Regions from separate parts of the Homo sapiens genome. Here region 1 is linked to region 2. Evidence: fine-mapped expression QTL. A gene starts in region 2. The other region holds a variant in brackets. All regions are shown on one strand. Distances are between the middles of the regions.

What was found. PIP is the estimated chance that this variant, and not a neighbour inherited with it, causes the effect.
Region 1: its variant is fine-mapped to the expression of ANKDD1B in whole blood (TOPMed, PIP above 0.99). The same link has a PIP of 0.9 or more in esophagus muscle and sun-exposed skin.

The regions. Positions count from the first base shown.
Region 1 is chr5:75,670,979-75,681,611 of GRCh38, reverse strand. ANKDD1B (ankyrin repeat and death domain containing 1B) reads right to left here. Exons shown (of 14, transcript NM_001276713.2): 14 at 9,766-10,633. The coding sequence ends at 10,572. It overlaps POC5 (POC5 centriolar protein), which reads left to right. Exons shown (of 12, transcript NM_001099271.2): 11 at 3,662-3,838; 12 at 7,034-7,488. The coding sequence ends at 7,177. Among named protein-coding and RNA genes, the nearest start is that of POC5, 41 kb to the left of the region's middle. The variant C/T (reference allele first, on the strand shown) is at 6,587.
Region 2 is chr5:75,606,643-75,617,275 of GRCh38, reverse strand. It overlaps ANKDD1B (ankyrin repeat and death domain containing 1B), which reads right to left and starts at 5,823. Exons shown (of 14, transcript NM_001276713.2): 1 at 5,449-5,823; 2 at 369-472. The coding sequence starts at 5,641. It overlaps POLK (DNA polymerase kappa), which reads right to left. Exons shown (of 15, transcript NM_016218.6): 15 at 7,285-10,633. RefSeq lists enhancers at 4,716-5,522, 5,523-6,329, 6,330-7,137.

The sequences.
Region 1 (10,633 bases), 64 kb before region 2:
ATAAAATTATTTAAAAAATAATAATATTAAAATGATTTTCTTTAATGCAGACATCCTCAGTATGTTAAAGACAATATCAGAATTTCATGGTGGAAACCATTTTTCAAAAAAGGCTGGACAGTTATACAAGCAAGCATATTGCAGTTCATAAAGTTGAACAGTAGATGGCATTTTATTCTTTTTCTAACTTCAATTGGAATAATTGAGGGGAAATATTTTTCACTGAATTTTAAAGCTATTTGGTAAAGACCTTTAGTAAAGTTTCTCTTCTAATTTTCCTCTTCATTTGAATAGAAAGTGAAAGGGTATCATTAGGGAGTTGGTACTGCGTTCTCCATTTTATAAATGAAGAAATTGAGGCTTAGAGAGTATGCAACTTGCCTAAGGACACGATTAGTAACTGATTTGGAATTCAGACTTTGAAAATCTGATTTAGACCTCTTACTCTTAACCAATGATCTGTACTGTCTCTCTGTCAAATATTAAGCTACAAATACTGTTTTTAATGTCATTTCATTTTTTTTCTTACTCCTTTCAATTTTGTTGCTTATGTTGATGTGGCTTAAAATGCTAGAATTTTTATTTTTATAGCATTTTTTAAAGTCAGCTAAGCTGATAAATTTAATGAACTCCAACATGATTGGTACCAGTAAGTGGTCATTTAATTTGCAGAGAATGATACATACCTAATGCATTATTTTATCCTAAAACATAAATATGTATTAATTTGCTGGTTTTAAATGTGGAGCCAAACTGAATGTGGGGTCAAAGATTGTAATTGTCATCTTTTTAATATAAACCACACCCAATATATTTTCTATGATCTCCAATTTCAGTTTCTGTAAAGCATGAACCTAACAAAACTTTCCAAACAATCTGATTAGAGAATCCTTCTAGGTTTTTCTTTCCTCCCCCTGATTAGTAGCAACTTTTTTCTAATAATTTATCTTTATGAATTATTTCTAAATTGTCCTTATGCATTTTCAACTTTTTCATCAATTTATACAATTTTTAATACATTAAATAAACATTAACAAGTACAAGTGACAAACCATCTGAAAACAAGCAGCCGACAGTAAACATGCGAGCCATTTAAGACAACTTCTATTTAATTCAATGAGCGTATAGAGATTTCTTTTAGAAGTCTTTTAGAAGTCATTTTATTTACAGGAGTATATATTTTCAAATTATTGAAGGCATTCTAAAGCAATTCTGAGCTGGGTTGAATGAAGCTTATCATCTATGAGCATTTTTCCTGCTACTCTAATTTTCTTCAGTCCAGACTTCTCTAGTTTTTCATTCACACCTGAAGCTCCAGGTGAGAATCATGGCTACTGAGAGGACACCCCTCAAGCGTGATTGGGCAGGAGGAAAGTTACAAACTCAATTGTACTTATTTCCACATTTTGGCAAAGAATATTCCTGCCAGCAATTAGTTTTCTATTTTGAAATAGCATTTAAGCATCTTCAGGAGTTTGTAAAATCTTTTTTGTCCCTTATTGTAATAAGTAATAGGACAAAGTTTCCCTCAGGCCAGAAGCATGAATTTAGTCCACAAAAACATATTTGTAAATATTTTTAAATCTGAGATTTAGTTTTTCAATTTCATAAGATCCATAGAAGTTTATGGTTTAAAAAGCCAAATCATTTTTACAAGGACTATAGTGAGAAACAGTCTTCTAAATTCCTCTCCCTAACTCTGTTAGCTGTTTCTTCTGTTTCCATTTTTTCCTAAATAGTATGTTTATATCATTATTTCTACATTTATTAATTTCAAACATTATCTGTTAACTTATTACAGATAAGAGGACTTGGCCTCCTGATGCCACCTTATTCCTTCTCTCTCTCTTCACTTTCCTTATCCTCCCTGTATGTTATAGATATTCCCATTTCAGATTAAATCATTTATGATTACTAATATAGCTAAGCCATGAATGTGTACTATGACTACATTTCCTTTCTGGTATAATGTTTTGTTCTTAGAATTAATTGCTTCATTTTTATCTTCGGTTTTCTATCCAACTATAGTGAATTATTTCCAAACTCTCCAAGGATTACAAAACCCCACTGAATGCTGTTTTCCATAGGGTCTTCCAAAAACATCAATACTCTGTCATTTTAATTTTCCCAGAGACATCTCTCCTGAAGCCCACTCTCTTCCCATTTCAGTATACAGCTGTGACTGTGTGTAGCTAGATGCAGCTATATGGAGAATCACAGATGAACTATAATAATCGGGAAAAGATTGATACTTAATAAATGCCTTTGGAAAAACTGTTTAGAGAAAAAATGAATTTAGATTAATACTTCACACTGGAATTTCAAATGTTTTAATAAGCTAAGCCAAAATAAGTAAATGTTATAAGAATATAACTACCTCAGCTGTCCAAAGCTGGTTTTGGTTTCATCATGGAAGCAAGAGGAAATTAATGACAGGATTAACCACAACTTAAAAAAATGGATGTGCATTGAAAATTAAGACAAATACATGAAATGGGGAAATCGTTTACACTCTGAGATAAGTATCTATAATTATTAAATGAGTTTAGTACTCGTCAGGAACTATTAAATTTAAATATTAATATCCTTTCAATTCTTAGCAAATAAGATGAATAGTTGACAAAATGGAATACAAATATGAAACATTAATAAAGAACCACAACTTGAATAGTAGATTTCACCTCAGACTTAAACAGGCGGCTGTGTAATTGATTGACAGTGGAAAAATAGTCCACTTACGTGTTATTCCTGCTGTAAATATTTTTCTGGAGTATTATCCAGCGATAAGCAGCAAAAGCTATAAAAGCTGATAATACTTTTTGATATGATCGTTCCATTGTTTGCAATATATTTTTATTATACAGAAGTAACTCTCAAAAGAGGATTTTTCTTTTGCAAAATGTGCTAAATGTAATAGAAAAAGAAAGACAAAGTAGTATGTTGGTATAAAAACCATCTCATTAAGAACTATAGCAGGTCTCTGTATTACCTCGTAAAAAAAAGTATATTAATAAAATGAGAAGGAAAAAAGGCAGAACACAGAAGCATATGTGTAATGATAATATTAATTATGCTTAAGGATCAAAGAGTCCATAAAACAGATTAATGGTTTCCAGAGGTTAAGGATGGTTGGGGAAGGAACAGAGAGATGGATATGACTGTCAAGGGTGGCACGAGGGAGATCTTCGTGGTGATGAGTATTCTGTATCTTGATTGAGTGATAGTTAACAGGAACTTAGGTGATAAAATGACAGAGATCTATACACAGGCATTATCTCATGGTGAGCTTCCTGGTTTTGACTTTGTTATATTCTAATTATGTCAGATGTAACCATGGCAGGAAACTGGGTGAAGAGCACACAGTACTTTTCAATATGATCTCTGTGTCTTTCTATAAATCTATCATTTAAAAAAAAAAAGTTGGTTTTTTAAGTTTCTAAAATCTTATAAAATCGTTGGCATACTCAGGTTAAAGGGATATTTTGGGGTGTTCAGTTTTGTTTTGCTTTTCGTCTTGTGATTTTGTTTTTTCCATGTTAAAGTTGGTTGAACATACAGTTATTTTAAGTGCCTGTGTATTCTTCATAATTTATGGAATCAATAGATTTTGCTGTGGATTTTCTGCCACCTTGTTACTTCTTTTATTTTTTTTTCTTCTTAGTATGTGCCAAGAGTTGTAACCTCTGCACAACAGAAAGCAGGAAGAACTATTACAGCCCGGATCACAGGAAGATGTGATTTTGCTTCAAAAAATAGAATTAGCAGCAGTTTAGCTATAATGGGAGTTTCTCCTCCCATGAGCTCAGTTGTTGTGGAAAAACATCATCCAGTCACAGTGGTGAGTCCACATTTGATGACCTTTTGTCAAAAAGTCTTTTTCCTGAGAGTTCATAGACTAGTAAACACTTACATAACATGTTGAGAAGATAAAAATTTATGATGACTGGTACTTGTTCTGCCTTTTCCTGTTACAGTTTTTTTTTTTTTTTTAATATATATACTTGTTTTTCTCAAACCTGCTATAAATCTACGTTTCTGCTGTTGGGAAATTAATTTCAGAAACATCGTTTCTTCCAAACTGTAAAAATTATAAAATACTAAAAGTAATCCAGTGTGTTTGTGGTCAAAAGAGTAAAATATGTAAATGCTTTATTATCAGTTTAAAAAGAGACAAAAATTGTTCACTCACTAGCTGCTCATGTAGCAGATATTTGATTACAAGAAAACTCCCCTACATTTATAGTTTTTAATTTTTGGTCCTTTTTTAAAAAAAGTCTTCCCCTTTTTTCAGTACAATTGTCAGCATGTTTTTAGTTTAACAAAATTCAACTTGCAGTAAATGCATGTGATATAAAGAAGGTGCATTGAATTTGAAGCAAAAATTTTAAAACCCGAGTTAGTGCTTCAGCTTTGCTACTTGTTGGCTTTGTGATATATACAAATCAAGTAAAATATTTGAGCCTCCACTTTCTCTTCTGTAAAATGGGGTTAATAAAAATAGTTAGCTCCTTGGGTTATTGTTAGGATTCAAGATTAAATGAGATAATGTGAAAATTAAACGAGATGTATTAAGGCATTTTATAAACTATAAAACCATAAGCAAATTTAACTTACTGAAAGTTACTAGAAAAAGATACATGAGATATCTCTGAATTATTTCCTACAAATGTGTACGAATCAACAATTATCTCAAAAAGTATAATAAGAGTGATAAGAACATCCCTAAAGAAAAACAAGGATTTATTTATTTATTTATTTATTTATTTTTTATTTATTTTTTTTTTTGAGACAGAGTTTCTCTCTTGTCTCCCAGGCTAGATAGAGTGCAATGGCGCAATGTTGGCGCACTGCAATCTCCGCCCCCTGGGTTCAAACAATTCTCCTGCCTCAGCCTCCCGAGTAGCTGGGATTACAGGCACCCGCCACCACCCCCAGCTGATTTCAGGGACTGATTTTAAAAGAGAATGCCCTCTATAAATTCTCAGCATCGGACAACGTTCCTGTGTACTTTCTAAGTATTAGCAAAAAAAAAGTATATGGAATGATTTTAAATCCTTTTTTCCCGAGTACTAGCTGGGCACTAGATGATTAAATGAAGACAAGCTGGATTGATTTGAACTGAACTTCAGGTGAAGTGGGACCTTAGCGAGGTGGAAGGCTGGAGATAGAAGCACCAAGTCCAGATAGAGACATGGAGATGACAGAGGATTTATTTTAGAATTATCTTAGGTTTCATGTTTCATAAGTTGGACAGACTCTGAAAGTTCGTAGAAGACTTTTCTATATATTTTTGAATATGGAAGACAAGTTATCAAAAATGAGAAGAAATAAACCCACTTCTGTTTTTTCAGATGTAGAAAATGTATAGAGATGGTGAGAGACTGTCCATTTGTGAGGTAAAGAAGGTGTAAAGAGAGCACATGTGTGTTTATTTTTTATTAGACAAGCTTTTGTTTTGTAGTAATGATGGGAATTCATATTTTACAGAAGAAAAATCAAAGTACTAAACATTTAGAACCCTTGTTTCTGATACTTATCTCCCATGCTGCCCTCCCTTTATTCAGTATGTGCATTTCTTACCCACTAACTGTGTATGAACCAGATAGCCATCAGCTGCCTGGATTATGTGACAGACACAGTGGCAGTCATTTGTACTGTATTTCTTTTCACCCTGGGAATCAAGATCTAAATCTACCAGAAATAGTTATTACTAAAAAACCAAGGATGCGATTTGTGACACTGTAGCCTCATCTGCTGGGTAACTGCATGCTTCTAGGGCCACTTCATTCTCTGTCATATTTTGTGTATCATAATTTCAGTGGCTACTTTATTTCTACAGTTCCTCTTGCCCATCCTCCTCAAGGAGAAAGCCTTTTTGGCAGGCTCAGGTTAGTGGCTGGCAACTAATTAGGTGACTGGCAACTAAAATTTCTTATCTGTTGCAAGAGTATCTCCTATTTATAATGGTTATCCAGTTGTTTATGTACAAATAAACGTTTTTATAAGATACTTTAAGAAAAGAAGTTATTTTTCTTTAAAAAGGAGTTCTGTTCTTTTTAAAATGGAATCTGACAGGATCTTTTGTTTTTAAGAAGTTTCATTCTTTTTTTAAGCAAAAACTACAGCTTGGAGTTTTTTAAATACATAGTGAATGTTTTGACCAAATACATGTAATTTTACTTAAACTATTTTAACAATGACTTTTCTAAGTGGAAGACCCTAATAGAAATTGACATGTCCTAGTCAGTGATATGGACTGAGAACTTGATAACAAATCCCACTGCTGGCTACTAAGAAGCTTTATCGGGTTTAATAGGGAAAAGCCTTGTACTGATACATATTGTTCATGTTTACATGTAAATGTGTACTTGTATACATAGTGTGTACTTACATGCATTACATGCATATTATGTGTGTCAAGTAAGTCACGTGTGTCCTGACTTTAATGACTCAGTGCTCATGTCTGAGGTGTTCCTTTGAGCTCTGAGGTGATGTGCATAAAAGTTTTAGTCTGCTCCCAGGTGAACCAGGTTAAATATGAGGGCTCTGGTTTAAAGCAAGGACCAGACTGCATCCTGAGGGCTTC[C/T]GTGTGCCCCTGGGATTGTGAGATAATCACATCCACATACTAACAGTCAAGTAGAGAGAAGGAAGTTGGATGGAATGAGGGGAGGACTCAGGGCTGACCCCTCTTCCAGACACCACAGAGTTTCTCTCTGTATACAAAGCCTCTGTACACATTACAAGATTCCACTTGGCCCTGTTGGAGGAATGGCTGCCGTGGCTTTCTTAATGAGCCTTGTGGATATAGCTCTGATATTACACTGTGGGTGTTGAACATGTCAGTCAGACTGGGTAGGGGTTCCTTACAGACAAAGGCCTCATCTAATTAACAGCTGCTTCACTCCACTCATTGCTTCTTTCTACTGGATCTTAACAAATGTTTATTGGGTTAAATTATAGATGATAGATGATGAAATGATACATAGTATACATAATCTTGGGATATTATTAAAGCAGAATTTTGTCTTTTCAGCAAACCATTCCTCAAGCAACTGCAGCAAAATATCCCCGGACCATTCATCCTGAAAGTAGTACCTCAGCTTCCAGATCACTTGGAACCAGATCAGCTCACACCCAGTCTCTCACAAGTGTTCATTCCATAAAAGTGGTTGACTAAAGTGAATATGTCCATAGTGGGGTCTTTTAATCCCTCTGGTCTTACCAAGGGTTAGAAGTCTTTTGGTTTTAACTTTTCCATATTGTTAGAACATCATGGAGACATCATGTTCATCTGTTCAAAATTACAAGAGGCTTTTTCAAGCTCTACCATGCTTTGTAACTATATGTAGAAATTATTTTAATGTTATTTTTTATTTAAGCAATTAAGTAAAACTTTTTTAAATTAAAAAAGAAACTGGACTTTATTTCTTTAATATGTTTAGCCTGTTGCTGATTACAGCATCAAAATATATAAATTTATTTTCACTATTTATAAAACACTAAATCATTTCCAATATTACACAGCTGTAATTCACTCAAAGTGTTGAGAGGGAACCTTACTAAAAACAAAGTATTAGAACTAGTGGAAACTAGGATATTTTTATTTTTAATTTAAAAAAGACCAAGTGTAATAATGATTTTTTTTTTTTTTTTTTTTGAGACAGAGTCTCGCTCTGTCACCCAGGTTGGAATGCAATGGTGTGACCTCGGCTCACTGCCTCCTCCTCCCATGTTCAAGCAATTCTCCTGCCCCAGCCTCCCGAGTATCTGGGATTACAAGTGCCAGCCACCATGCCCGGCTAATTTTTGTATCTTTTTTTAGTAGAGACAAGGTTTCATCATGTTGGCCAGGCTGGTCCCGAATTCCTGACCTCAAGTGATCCGCCCGCCTGAGCCTCCCAAAGTGCTGGGATTACAGGCATGAGCCACCACGCGCGGCCCCGTTTTTTGTGGCTTTAACATGTTAGTCTTCATTTTTCCAGGACTCTAACAACAGTTGAAAATAGACGGAAACGGCAACACCTATGAATCATTTTTTAATGCCAAAAGGGAAAACATTTGTAATACTAGCACTAGAGTTACAGAAGTATCAGAAATTTCCTGTTAGAATGAGCCTGTTTCTGGTGTTCTTTCTCGCCTTATTATTTGAAACTCTGCAGCACTGAACCTACCTTGTTCTCCCCGAACATCTAAACACTGTTCTGTGGTGGCGTAGCCCTGAGCAACTCAGCAAACCTAGGCCTGGGCAGAAATTTTTCAATGGCTGGCCAATACAAAGAAACCATCTGGGCAGAACTGATTTAGGTGAACAAGACTTGGCTTCTAATGGTTTCATTGCTGACTGATTGTGTGGGCCAGACAATTAAATGAATCTCTGGATCCTCATCTGTGAAATAAGAATAAAATCTACCTACTATTTCACAGTACTTATACATAAAAATGAACAGGTTCTAAAGAGTTTGTCCAGGACCTCAATTTCCATCTCTTTTAACAGAGTGGATGGAGTTAATCATCTGAAGCCTCTTCTAATTTGAATATAAGTTCTCTGCACTAATTTTTATTATAGGAAATAGGTTTTCTTGCTGCCTCACATTGTTCACAGGACATCAGAGAATAAATGTGATATAGGCAAATAGAATCCTAAGGCCTTTCTGAATTACTAGGCTGTTTCTTAAAGGGTATTAGATATTTACACAACACTTGTTCTGGATTCTGGCCCAGCTACCATTGTGGTAAACAAACAGCTCCACCCCTCATGGTCTTCAGCAAGCTTTTCATGAACACAAACCACAAGCACCTCATCTCGTGCCCTTTCCATGTGTGTGCTCTTCCCGGGCTTCCCCGTTCACTCCCAGTTGAGTCAGGATAGTGCAGGCTCCACTGGGGAGCCCACTCATGCAACCCAGAATTAATACTTGGCATTATGGTAAACAGACCAATTCTTCCTTCCTTCTCCCTGTATGAATTGTCCTGAGATGCATTAGTATATCATGTCTCTCAGAATAGAGTAGCCCAAGATTAAATAATCAGTTATGCTTGTACCAAGTGATGGCCACTTAGGTAATTCGCTTTGTTCTTGCTCTCCCTCCTCCCTAGACAACTCCCCTTTCTCCTCCGCTCCTTCCCCGGATGTACACTTCTGAAAAAGTTGTTGCACACAAACTTCGGTCTTAGACAAGCTCTACTTTTTGAGGAATCTAGACTACAACTAGGAATGGTTTTCAGTATCCAAGCCAAAACAATATGGACAAACTGAAGTGAATATTATGAATGTTGTGATTAAGAATATTATAAACATATTTTTAAGCTTTAAGCTCTAGAAATGTATGTTGTCTAAAGCACCAAGCAATTAGTGTTGGCCTAAGTTAATGTAAATTCAACAGTTTAACACTTGACACAGTTATAGTATATATTCATATTTGTTTATTTTTGCATAAAGAGGTTACCCCAATCTGGTGGGGAGCAGTAATAGAGAAAGAGAGGTCAGTGGAAACTGGCCATACTGAAGAACAGATGGGACAATACTTCTTCTCAATATGTTTTTGAAAAACGTTTTGGAATCATGTGAATCTATTACCTGTTTTAAACATTCATAAGATTAAGTGGGCCATTTATAATCAGTATGAGACAAAGACATAAAACTATAAATTCATGATAGAATAACTGGATTGAAATTGCTTATGGTTTTAGTATGTGCCTTGTAAATTTAGAGTCAGAATCTGAGAATGGAGAGTCTTAAATTCCAATGAATAGGTGCACATAAACTGACACTCAATTTTACATTTATTTCATAACTCTTAGATTACAAAAATAATGCATGTTCTTTGTGAAAAAAAGAATGGAATGTACCCAAAAGTACAAAGAAAATAATCATCTGTAATTACATCACCAAGAGATTTAAAAAAAAAAAAAAATGGTGTACATACTTCTGGTCTTTCCTAAGTAATATATTACACAAAATGTGTGATTTAAAGTCAACAATGACTATAAATTCCAAACCCAGTTTCTCTTACTGAAAGAGAAATAGCAGTTGATTTCCGTACTATGGGCGTGAGGCTACACAGGCATTTTCCCTTCATCTTCATTCCAACCCTATGGATTAAATAGACATCTCTCCCAGTTTATAGAGAAGGAAACTGAAGATCTAAGAACGTAAACAACATTAACATGCCCAAAGGTTCACATCTAATAAGTGGCAAAACCAAGTTCAAAACCATATTTGTCTATTATAAAAACCCTTGTTTTTTTACTGTACCATGATGCTGCTCCCATGAGTTTTTTAAAAAAACATGACATACAAAACCGTCCTAGATTATCTTATTACATGGATTACATCAAATGATTGATAGAAATGGGAAAATCACATACAACTTGCCCTCAGCAAAAAAAACTATATTTGACTTTTTAGTGGTTGAAAAGTATCATGGTATTACTCTTCTTTCATCTGTTAGAGTTCCCTGTCACCACCATCATCATAGTTGAAAATCAGTGCTACTGCTAGAAGAAATTTATGGCATTAAAAGAACTGAATGCTGAGTGGAAAATCATGTAAATACAATTTCTTTAGGCATTTATGAAACTACACATTTCTTGGAGTTTGAGTCAGTTTTGCTTTTGAAATGACGAGTCTTTT
Region 2 (10,633 bases):
GTATAGCAAAAAAATGTTCTGCCTTTCCAGAATGTGTGAGGCCAAACTGATCCACAGGCGACAATCCAGGACCAAGTCCGGGCCTGCAACCCTGACAGCTGGCTTTACTGCCCACCCACAGACTTTGAACAGATAGGCATGAAGATTCTGTGCACTCCCCTTCTTGGAAGAGGAATTAAAACACCCAGAGCCTCTTCCACTGTTTGACTCCACCTTTTAGCTTAAACACCCCGGGATTACCAACAAAGCAGCTCTCCCTTATCTCAGCCAGCACCATGATTTTTATTTTTATTATTATTTCAGATGTCCTGTGTAAATCCAAGCCATTACTGGAGAAGTCACTTGTCATATTTATGACTTCTACTCACATTGTTCACAACATTAATGTTAACCTTCTTTTCAAACAGCTTCTCCATAAGATCCAAATTATTGCTTTTAGCAGCATTCTGAAAGCTTCTCTCATTTGGGAGTACTGAAAGAAAGCAAAGCAAGCATGACTGAGGGAATTTAAGGAGGCCAAAGAGAAAGCATATTTCATAGGGCAAACCTTGTAACAACAGCTTTGAGTCTTTCACATTTTGCTGTTTTATTTAAGACATGGGAACTTCGCTTCAATATCTTACAAAACTGTAGTATCAAGATTTCATTTTCTCCTCATGCTGCAAGCGCTTTCACATCCTTAAAAATGTTCCTGGCCCCAAACAAAACATTATTCATGAGGACCACCCTGAAGTCAGTAACCTGGTATCTGGCTTAGAAGGTCAGAAGGCGGCCATAGACTTCCCAGGGGGCATTGTTTGTAAAAAACCTTGTACAAGATTAGGCAGGGAGGAGTCCAAATGCTCCTACAGCTTACAGAGATAAAACTGTTGTCTTCAGAACTCTATACCGAGGCCAGGCCTGCATGAAGATTTCAAAATGCAGCCCATCATACATACAGACACAAAGTTAAAGGGGATTAAAATGTTTTATTCTCATTTATATAAAAACACATAGAAGTAGATTGACATCTACTATAAACATCACATTTCACACACATATACACATTCATATGGTAGGCTTTATTAACTATCACAGAGAAGATTCCAGGGTTTATTGAGTTTTTTGTTATGTAGGGGAGTAGAGGGCTCTCAGAGGACAGCCCAACATAAGGGGTAAGACCAGAATTGAGGTTAAGTAGGAGTCAATAACATACCATCTCCAAACAGAAAGGACCGTAAGAGAGGTTTCTGTAGATGTGTTGTGGATTAGTTTCCTAAGGGTTTCCTTGTTTTTTAAATGGTACCATCATAACATTCAATGTTCCCCAAGTTTTTGCCGAAGCAAAGACCTTTCAGGATACTGCCAAGTCCAATCAAGGACCAACCAAGGAGTATCTTCTTGGGAAATATTGTTATGGGCTGAATTGTGTCCCTCCAAAATTCCTATGTTGAAGTCCTAACCCCAAGTACCTCAGAATGTTGACTATATTTGGAGATAGGGCCTTTAAAGAGGTAATTAAGGTAAAATGAGGTCATATAAATGGGCTCCAATCTGATAATGATTGGTGTCCCTATAAGAAGAGAGATTAGGACACACACACACACACACACACACACACACACACAGGGAAGACCAGGTGAAGGCAGGGAGAAGGTGGCCATCTATAAGCCAAGGAGAGAGGCCTAAGAAGAATTGAACTTTTCCAACATCTTGATGTTGGACTTGTAGCCTCCAGAACTGTGAGAAAATAATTGTCTGTGGTTTGAGCCATCCAGTCTGCTGTACTTTGTCGTGGCAGCCTGAGTAGACTCATGCAGATTCACATGTTCATTCTTTCTATTACCTGGATCCTTCTCTTCGTTCCTACCCCTACTCTTGTCACCATTCTAGGTGACTTCAACCTCCTCACAGATGATTAATCCAACACCTTGGCCTCTTAGTTCCCTGACTCTGTCACCTCTAATAATCTTCCCCAGATCTGACCTTAGCCATCAAATTTCAGAGACACATTCCTGAACTAATCATCCCTCAAACTGCACTACCTCTGAAATCTTGACTTCCAGAATCCTATTCTTTGACCACAACTTCTCATCCATTCAGCTCAGCTGCTCTAGTTCTCCAAGTCCAGAAATTCTGCAACCTTATGAAGTCCTCCAGTCCACAGTTCTAGCCCTTTTTCATATTCTTCATCTCTATGTCCTTACTTCCCTCCTTACCATGTTTAGATTCCATGGTGCCAGTCTGTTTTTGCTGCCATAACAAAATACCTGACACTAAGTAATTTTAAAAAAACAGAAATTTATTTTGCACATTCAGACCATAGCACATGGTCCACCTATGAAATCACTTCTATGCAAACACTTACCTCCCTCACCATTCTTTTCCTCCATTAGACTAGTTGGTCAGAATCCTAATTCTGAGATTAAATCCAACTGCTACTTGCTTTGTTTCTGTACCTGAACAGCTAAATGGTACTGGAGAAAAACACACAGCCATACTGTAGTAGACATTGCTAGTGTTCATCAATATCTGCTTCTTCTCTTCTACCTGGTCACATGTGTAAGCCCATAACCCAGCCTGGATAGTTGAGGTGTATCCAATGGACTGAAAGCACAAGTGATGGCATGTCACTTTGGGGCTGAGTCAGTGAAAAGCCTGTGTCACCCTCTAGGTCTCTTTTCCCTGCCTTATCAACACTGGAAGCCATGTGTTTAAATGAAGGGGTTACAAGATGGTGGTACCTCCATCAACTTGGTATTGGGACACAATTCTCCCTGGGTCTCTCACATTTCTGCACATCTTACAAGCAAAAGCACTGACTGGCTTTGCTCTTTACTACCTTTTCAAGGATGTTTGTATAGTGAAAAGCCTTGACAGACAGAGATAATATCTTCCTCTGGAGCAAAGGGCAGGTTTGCTTGCAGCCTTGGAAGAAAGCAATGGTAAGGCATGCTTACTGACTATTACAAAAGATTTGGGTTCCCTAAGCGCAGGATTTTTCTGTAACACAACCCACTGTGTGTGCAGGTGTCATTTGGCATCTTTATATCTCCCTGTGGGAATTGGGGCTTGGAGAACTGACACAAATGCTAACACTCTGGCTACTGCTACTGCTATGAGTAATGAAATTCATCAACTCTGATCCAGAAGTGTCTTCTGCCAGCATCTCTATCACCTAGCAAGCTAACTTGTGAGATTACAAGTAGGGTAAAATCTCAACCCCTTTATGATCCTTGACACCTGGGTTCCTGAGAGACTAAGAAGATGAGAGACCCTCGCCAACTTATTTTGGACATGCTACACGAACAAGAAATATATCTTTCTTTTAAATGTAAAGACAGGGTCTCGTTACGTGGTCCAGGCTGGTCTTGAATTCCTGGTCTCAAGTGATCCTCTCACCTGGCCTCCCAAAATGCTGGGATTATAGGTGTGAGCCACCACACCCAGTCAGAAATAGATCGTTTTTAAGTCCAGTCACTCAGATGTAGGAGTCATTTATTGCTGCAGGAAAAGCTTACTTTGTCCTGACTGATACACATGCTAACAGGTCTCTTAAATTCTTCCCCACTAATCTCAGCACGACTAGCTAGCCTCTACATTTCCCTAGTCTTCCCTTCTTCAACATGTCATATCCTTTCCTTTCTCCTCAAATATCTGAATTTACTAATCTACGTAATTTACTTCCTCCCACTACCATCACCTAATTCTCAGTTAATACCGTTGCCTCATAGTGAAAACAGAAGTAATAGGACACGAATTCCCACATCTTCCCACCTAGGTGAGTCTACCAACCTACCTTCATTTATATATGCAGGATGAAGCATCCCTGTACCTAGGAAAGGCCAACCTCTACACTTGGGCTCTGGATCCCATCCCCTTTTATCTTTTCAAGTGTTTCATATGTCAATCTCCTGGAAATTATCTCTTCTTTCCTCTAGATCACTTAATCTCTCTCCAGTGGATCACTCCCCTCAAAAAATACTGAGATGCCATAATACCCTATGCATAAAAAACCCTCCCTTGACCCCAGCTTCCTTTCCAACTGCTGCTGCATTTTTCAACTTTCCATTACCCCAAACTTAAGTATTCTATAATTGCTGTCTCCATTTCTTCATCTCACAGTCTTGTCTCAACCCATGCTAATCAGACATCTTTCCCACCCCTCTACTGAAACTGCTCTTGTTGAGGTCACTCCGCCTTGCCAAAACCCAGTCATCATACCTCCGTCATGTGCATTGAGCTCTTGGCAACTTTGACACAGAGGAACACACACTCCATGTAACATGTTCTTCTCTAGAGGTCTGGTAAACCAACTTTCGCTTTCTAGTCTTTTCTACTGGCTCTTTTTCCTTTGCTTGATCTCCAACTATTAGAATGCCCTAGGGTTTATATAAAACAAATAATCTGTTGATGTAGGCATGATTCCTCCATTTTACAGATGAGGAAACTGAGATCTTCAAAAGTTATACCACTTGCTCATGCTTTGTAAGTTATAGAATTGTCCCAGGCAGCCTGACTCCAACCACATTACCCTGTCTCATGGCCTTCACTGCACTTACCTTAAATTATCTTATTCATTTATTTGCGTACTTATTTTATTGTCTATCACCCCTCCACCACAACAGAATGTTCCACCAGAACAGGGGTTGTCTTGTTCTCTCCAACCCTACATCTAGAACATGCCTAGCAAATAGTTAAGCCCTTGAAAATAGTTCTAGAATGACTGAATGAACACTATATTGATGAATTGGTGTATAGCTTCCAAGCCTGGTTTAGGAAATAAGGCCGTCCCAGCCAGTAGGCTTGGATGGTGTGCCCCGTTAAGAGGCTTGAGTACTGGGAAGGCTGAGGTGGGAGGATCACCTGAGCCTGAGGAGGTCTGTGATTGCACTACTGCCTTCCAGCCTGTGCAACAGAGCAACAAGACCCTACACGCGGGGCGGAGGGCGGGGGCGGGGCGGAGGGCGGGGGGGGGCGGGGGCAGACTTAAATCGCTTTCAGCTTTCGAACTGCTTAACAGCTGCCTCAGTTTATGCTACACATTATTCCCAAGGCATAGATGATCCACTCCATGCTTTAAAAACTTAAGTGCAGAAAGATTAAGTGACTGACTTATTTAAAGTCAGACAATAAATCGGAGCATGAGTCACGATATAGGAGATAAGAGCACATGAAACTCTTATTTGCAAAAGGACTTAATCATTATTTTTAAAAGCCTCCTCCTTAATTCGGAAGAATAATACTGTCCTTCCACCCACAGTACATGGTGGGGGTGGATTCCAAAGCTGAAAACCAGCCAACAGGGAGTGCAGCGGTGCAGGCTGGGACTCGGGGTCCCAGGGCTGAGTCGCCTCGCCAGTTTCCCTCCTGCAGCGTCCGGAGGTGCTGCTCTGGGTACCTTCTCAAGTCCCTTCGACCCAGCCCGCCCCGCAGCCTGATTTTCTGAGACCTCGTCCCGGGACTCACGGAGCTCGTGTCCGGCAACTGCTGTGTCCTCCTCTCCAAGACCCTCCCGCTTCGGGATCCGGGACAGGCTCCTCCAAGGCAGGGCGGCCGCGCCCCACAGGTCTTCCCTGAGACCCTTGGCGGCCGCAGCAGCCCGGAGCAGCAGCCCCCCTGCCGTGGCCCCTTGGCCCCGGGCGCGCCCGGCGGGGTCCATAGTCTCCTCCGCGGGCCCTGAGCGCAGGGCCAGACCCAGACTCGGACCCAGATCCAGACCCAGACTCGGACACAGATCCAGACCCAGGCAGGCCCAGGGCGCGGGGGCTGGACGCAGGCAGGTCAGCCCGGCCGGAGCGCAGGATCGAGTCCGCTCTCTGTTGTGGCGGTTCGCTGGGCAACAAGCCCCTAGTTTCCAGCCCTGCCCTGACTTGGGCTGGCCTGGGATAATCCGCCCTCAGGTGTGGCGTGCACAGTGCTAAGGTTTGGTTCTCTGGAAAATAAAACATCCAGCGACCATCGAGAACGGGCCATGATGACAATGGCGGTTTTGTCGAATAGAAAAGGGGGAAATGTGGGGAAAAGAGAGAGAGATCAGATTGTTACCGTGTCTGTGTAGAAAGAAGTAGAAATAGGAGACTCCATATTGTTCTGTACTAAGAAAAATTCTTCCGCCTTGGGATGCTGTTAATCTATAACCTTACCCCCAACCCCGTTCTCTCTGCAACATGTGCTGTGTCAACTCAGGGTTAAGTGGATTAAGGGCGCTGCAAGATGTGCTTTGTTAAACAGATGCTTGAAGGCAGCATGCTCGTTAAGTCATCACCACTCCCTAATCTCAAGTACCCAGGGACACAAACACTGCGGAAGGCCGCAGGGACCTCTGCCTAGGAAAACCAGAGACCTTTGTTCACGTGTTTATCTGCTGATCTTCTCTCCACTATTATCCTATGACCCTGCCACATCCCCCTCTCCGAGAAACACCCAAGAATGATCAATAAATACTAAAAAAAAAAAAAAAAAGAATAAGCAGAGAAATTGGGGAGGGTATTCAAAGCTGAACAACTAATGGTCCAAGGATATCACTATCACTATCATTAACACATGCTTTAGTCACCAGGAACTGCCAATTTTACTTCTCAAATCTCTTAATTACATCTGCTTCTCCATTTTTATTTCCATTGCCATCATTGCTTGTCACTGAATTTATTGTAATAACTTCTTCATAAGAATTTATTGTAATACCTTCTTCATAAGAATTTGTTGTTAGATGGATTTATTGTCTGTTGCTACATTTCAGGCACAGAATTAAGCACCTTTTGCACAGCCTCACTTAATTCTGAGGTATGGTGTATTCTATTATTAGCCCCGTTTGATAGAAAAGGATTCTGAGGCTTGAAGACGTTGGTGGAAGAAACAGAACTTGCCCCTAACGAGCATGACTTCTAAGAATGTGTTGTCAAGGGCGTGACTCACTCACCTTGCTCTACAGCAGGGGGTCACTTTGCTCCATCCCCAGGCCAAATCCCGCTGCTGCCTGTTATTGTAAATAAAATTTGTTTTAACACATTAAAAAAAAAAATTCCTGCAAAATCTACAAGCCCCAATGAACTCCCAGCTCTACTCTACCACTTCTTTGTATAATTTTGAGAAATGTCAAGGTTGAATTTATAACTAACACTATAGGAACTTCAATATTAAATCATTTCTAAATGGGCTTCCAACATTTTCTTTTGAATAAAGTAAGACTTGATTTCTCATTTGAAGACCATGAATTTTAATCTTTCCTGGCGGATTCTTTTGAAAAGTGAAATAATACAGAAGCAAGTCAAATTCTGACCCCCCAAATAAACTTCAAATAAGAAAGGTAATCAGGTTTTCATTTATTTATTCTTCTTACAAATTTACAAAAGATGTATCATTTTAATGTAAATTATGTAATATCAATGTTCATTTCAAACTTGTCAGTTTTTCCCTTCAAATTATTGTGCACCAAATTTGAGGCATTAAATTCAAAACAATGTTTCCTAATCAATGAAAAAACAAACATGACAAAATATTATTTATTTTATCAGAACACCGCCCATAACCTCAAACTTTCCTCTTTTAAAAAAGGGAAATGGGCCTAATGTTTGTAATAGAGATATGATAAAAACAATAGCAGGTAAGTTGAATTGAGTATTATGCAGAAATATCAGACAATGTACTAATATGGAAAGTATAATATGTAAATGGAAAAACAGGGCACCAAATTATATGTATATGTAGCATGTTTACAAGTAAAATTCTAAAAATCAAAAGAAAATACCCACACAAAAGAAGGAATAATAGTGAAAACAGCAGCAGATCAATGGAAAGCATACAGCCAAGTACAGAAAAATCTCCCAGTCTGGGTAACAAAGTGAGACCCCCTCTCTACAAAAATTAGCCAGGCATGGTGGTGCATGCCTGTAGTCCCAGCTACTTGGGAGGCTGAGGTGGGAGGATGGCTTCAGCCTGGGAGGCAGAGGTTGCAATGAGCCAAGATTGTGCCACTGTGTGCCAGTCTGCGTGATAGAGCCAGACCCTATCTCAAAAAAAAAATTTTTTTTTAATATAAATAAAAAATAATTTTAAAAAAAGATCTGAATTGTGTTATCCAAGTTTGAAACTGCTTTCAAATTCTAAACCAAGAAATTTACTTTTAAAAAAATCCTCTTATCAATGACAGGAGAAAATGCATCATCATTTTATGCTATATAGCCTTATAATAGTATGTGGTACTTATCTTACTCTAACAGATGAGACAAAAACTCCAAAGCAGTGCATTATGTGAAACTTAGCCATAGCTGGACTTTATTTCCCTGACAGCTTGGGCTAAATAAGAAGCTATGAAGTATACTGTGGGAGGTATTTTCTTTTTCACTCTGTTTCAAATATCAGGTTAGTTCTCAAGCAGAATATTAATTCTAAGCGTGCTAATACATAAAAGCTTGCCCACATGATCTGGCCCTACTCATCTCTCTGATCTTGGGCCCTACAATTCTTCTCCATTCTTCATCCACTGTTTCCTGGTGGAGAGCCATCAGCTTCTATTTCCTCCCTTTGCCTAGAACTTCTCTCCCCCACCTCCACTTCCGAATTTTTAAAATAGTTTTGATCCTTCGTATCATTAAGGTTTCAGGTTAAATGTCACTTCCTCAGAGGAGCCTTCTCGGATCATCTTATTCTAAAAGTGTCCCCTACCTTCATGTTCCATTCCCTTATGCTGTTGTCTCTTTCCTTTGTAACACTTACCACTGAAATGTCTATTTGTTTAGTGTCGGTTTCCACAACTAGAATGTAAACTTCATAAATACAGTGATTTTTAAAACTTTGTTGGGCCAGGCGTGGTGTCTCATGCCTATAATCCCAGCAATTTGAGAGGCCGAAGTGGGAGGATGGCTTGAGGCCAGGAGTTTGAGGCCAACCTGGGCAACTTAGTGAGACTCCAGTCTCCACAAAAAATTTAAAAATTAGCTGGTGGTGGTGGGGCAGACCTGTAGTCTTAGCTACTTGGGAAGCTGAGATGGGAGTATGGCCTGAGCCACGGAGGTCAAGGCTGCAGCAAGCTGTTATCATGTCACTGCATTCCAACCTGGGTGACAGAGCAAGACTCTGTCTCAAAAAAAAAAAAAATTAATTAAGTTTCTTACTGCATCTCCAGTGGCTAAAACAGTACCCGACCTGCAATAAGTATTTGTCAAATAAATATGGAATGCAATTTAGCCATGGGAACAGTAACTTGTCTTTGAGTCCTGAAAGCTTTAAGTTTTTCCCCTAAAGGTCTAGACTAAAAAAATATGTTCAATTCTGAAGTAAACCTTTAAAACCAGGTCCTGTTCAAGGATTCCATATTTTTAAAAACATCTTCCTAGATTTCTCTTTGCCCTCCTCTACCAGACGATTTCTCCCTAGACTCCCACTTTGTATATTCATCTATTATAGCCCTCCCTACATTGAATAGAAACTGTCCCTGGGGTGGCTCTCCATTTTTTGAGGACAAACATGTCTTAATAATCTTTATGTCCTTTATCAGCTAGGATTCAGCTATAATTAATAGGAAAACCCAAGTAACTATGGCTTAAACAATTTTTTAATTTGTTTCTTGTGAAAGTCTCAAAGTGTGCAGGCCAGTGCTGATATGTCTCTGTTTTACAAAGCCCCAAGAATCAGCCCCTGCAGCCCACTACTCTACCATCCCCCTGTGCAACCCTTATGTTCAGGTGTAAACGGCAGCATCTGCTTCCAGGCAGCAGGATGGAACAGAGAAATAGAAAGAAGAGGCAAACAGAATGCTACAGCTGCAAGAAAGGAAGGTTCCCAGAAGCAACCACACACAGTACTTCCTTTTTTTTTTTTTTTTTTTGAGACAAGGTCTCGCTTTGTCACCCAGGTTGGAGTGCAGTGGTGCAATCTCAGCTCACTGCAACCTCCGTCTCCCGGGTTCAAGCGATTCTCTTGCCTCAGCCTCCTGAGTAGCTGGGATCACAAGTGTGTGCCACCACGCCCAGCTACTTTTTTGTATTTTGAGTAGAGACGGGGTTTCACCATCTTGGCCAGGCTGGTCTCGAACTCCTGACCTCAGGTGATCCACCCGCCTTGGCCTCCCAAAGTGCTGAGATTACAGGCGTGAGACACCGCACCCGGCCAGTACTTCCTTTTATATCCCATTAGTCAAAACTCAGTCACATGGCTACCCCTAGCTGGGAGGGTGTGAGCTTCAAGGATGGGAGATACATTGTAGTCATCAATTCTGTAACACCTATTTTTCACATTATCACATCTTTTTAATTGAGATACTAAGTTGTCTGCCTGAATTGAAGTTGAGTTCTTCCATAGAGGATTTGCATATGCTTCTGCCAGTCACTAGGGGCAATACTAACCTCACTTTAATTACATTTTCTGCTTGAGCTCTTTAGGATGATACCATTTGTGTGAATTCAGATTACAAGCCTACATGTGTACTGGTTTATGGTTCAAATTCTCACTGGCAGTCCCTCCTTCCAACCAGTGCCAAGGCTGAGCATGCAAATTGCTTTGCTGTGGGGAAAAGCAAGAGAGATCAGATTGTTACTGTGTCTGTGTAGAAAGAAGTAGACATAGGAGACTCCATTTTGTTATGTACTAAGAAAAATTCTTCTGCCTTGAGATTCTGTGACCTTACCCCCAACCCCGTGCTCTCTGAAACATG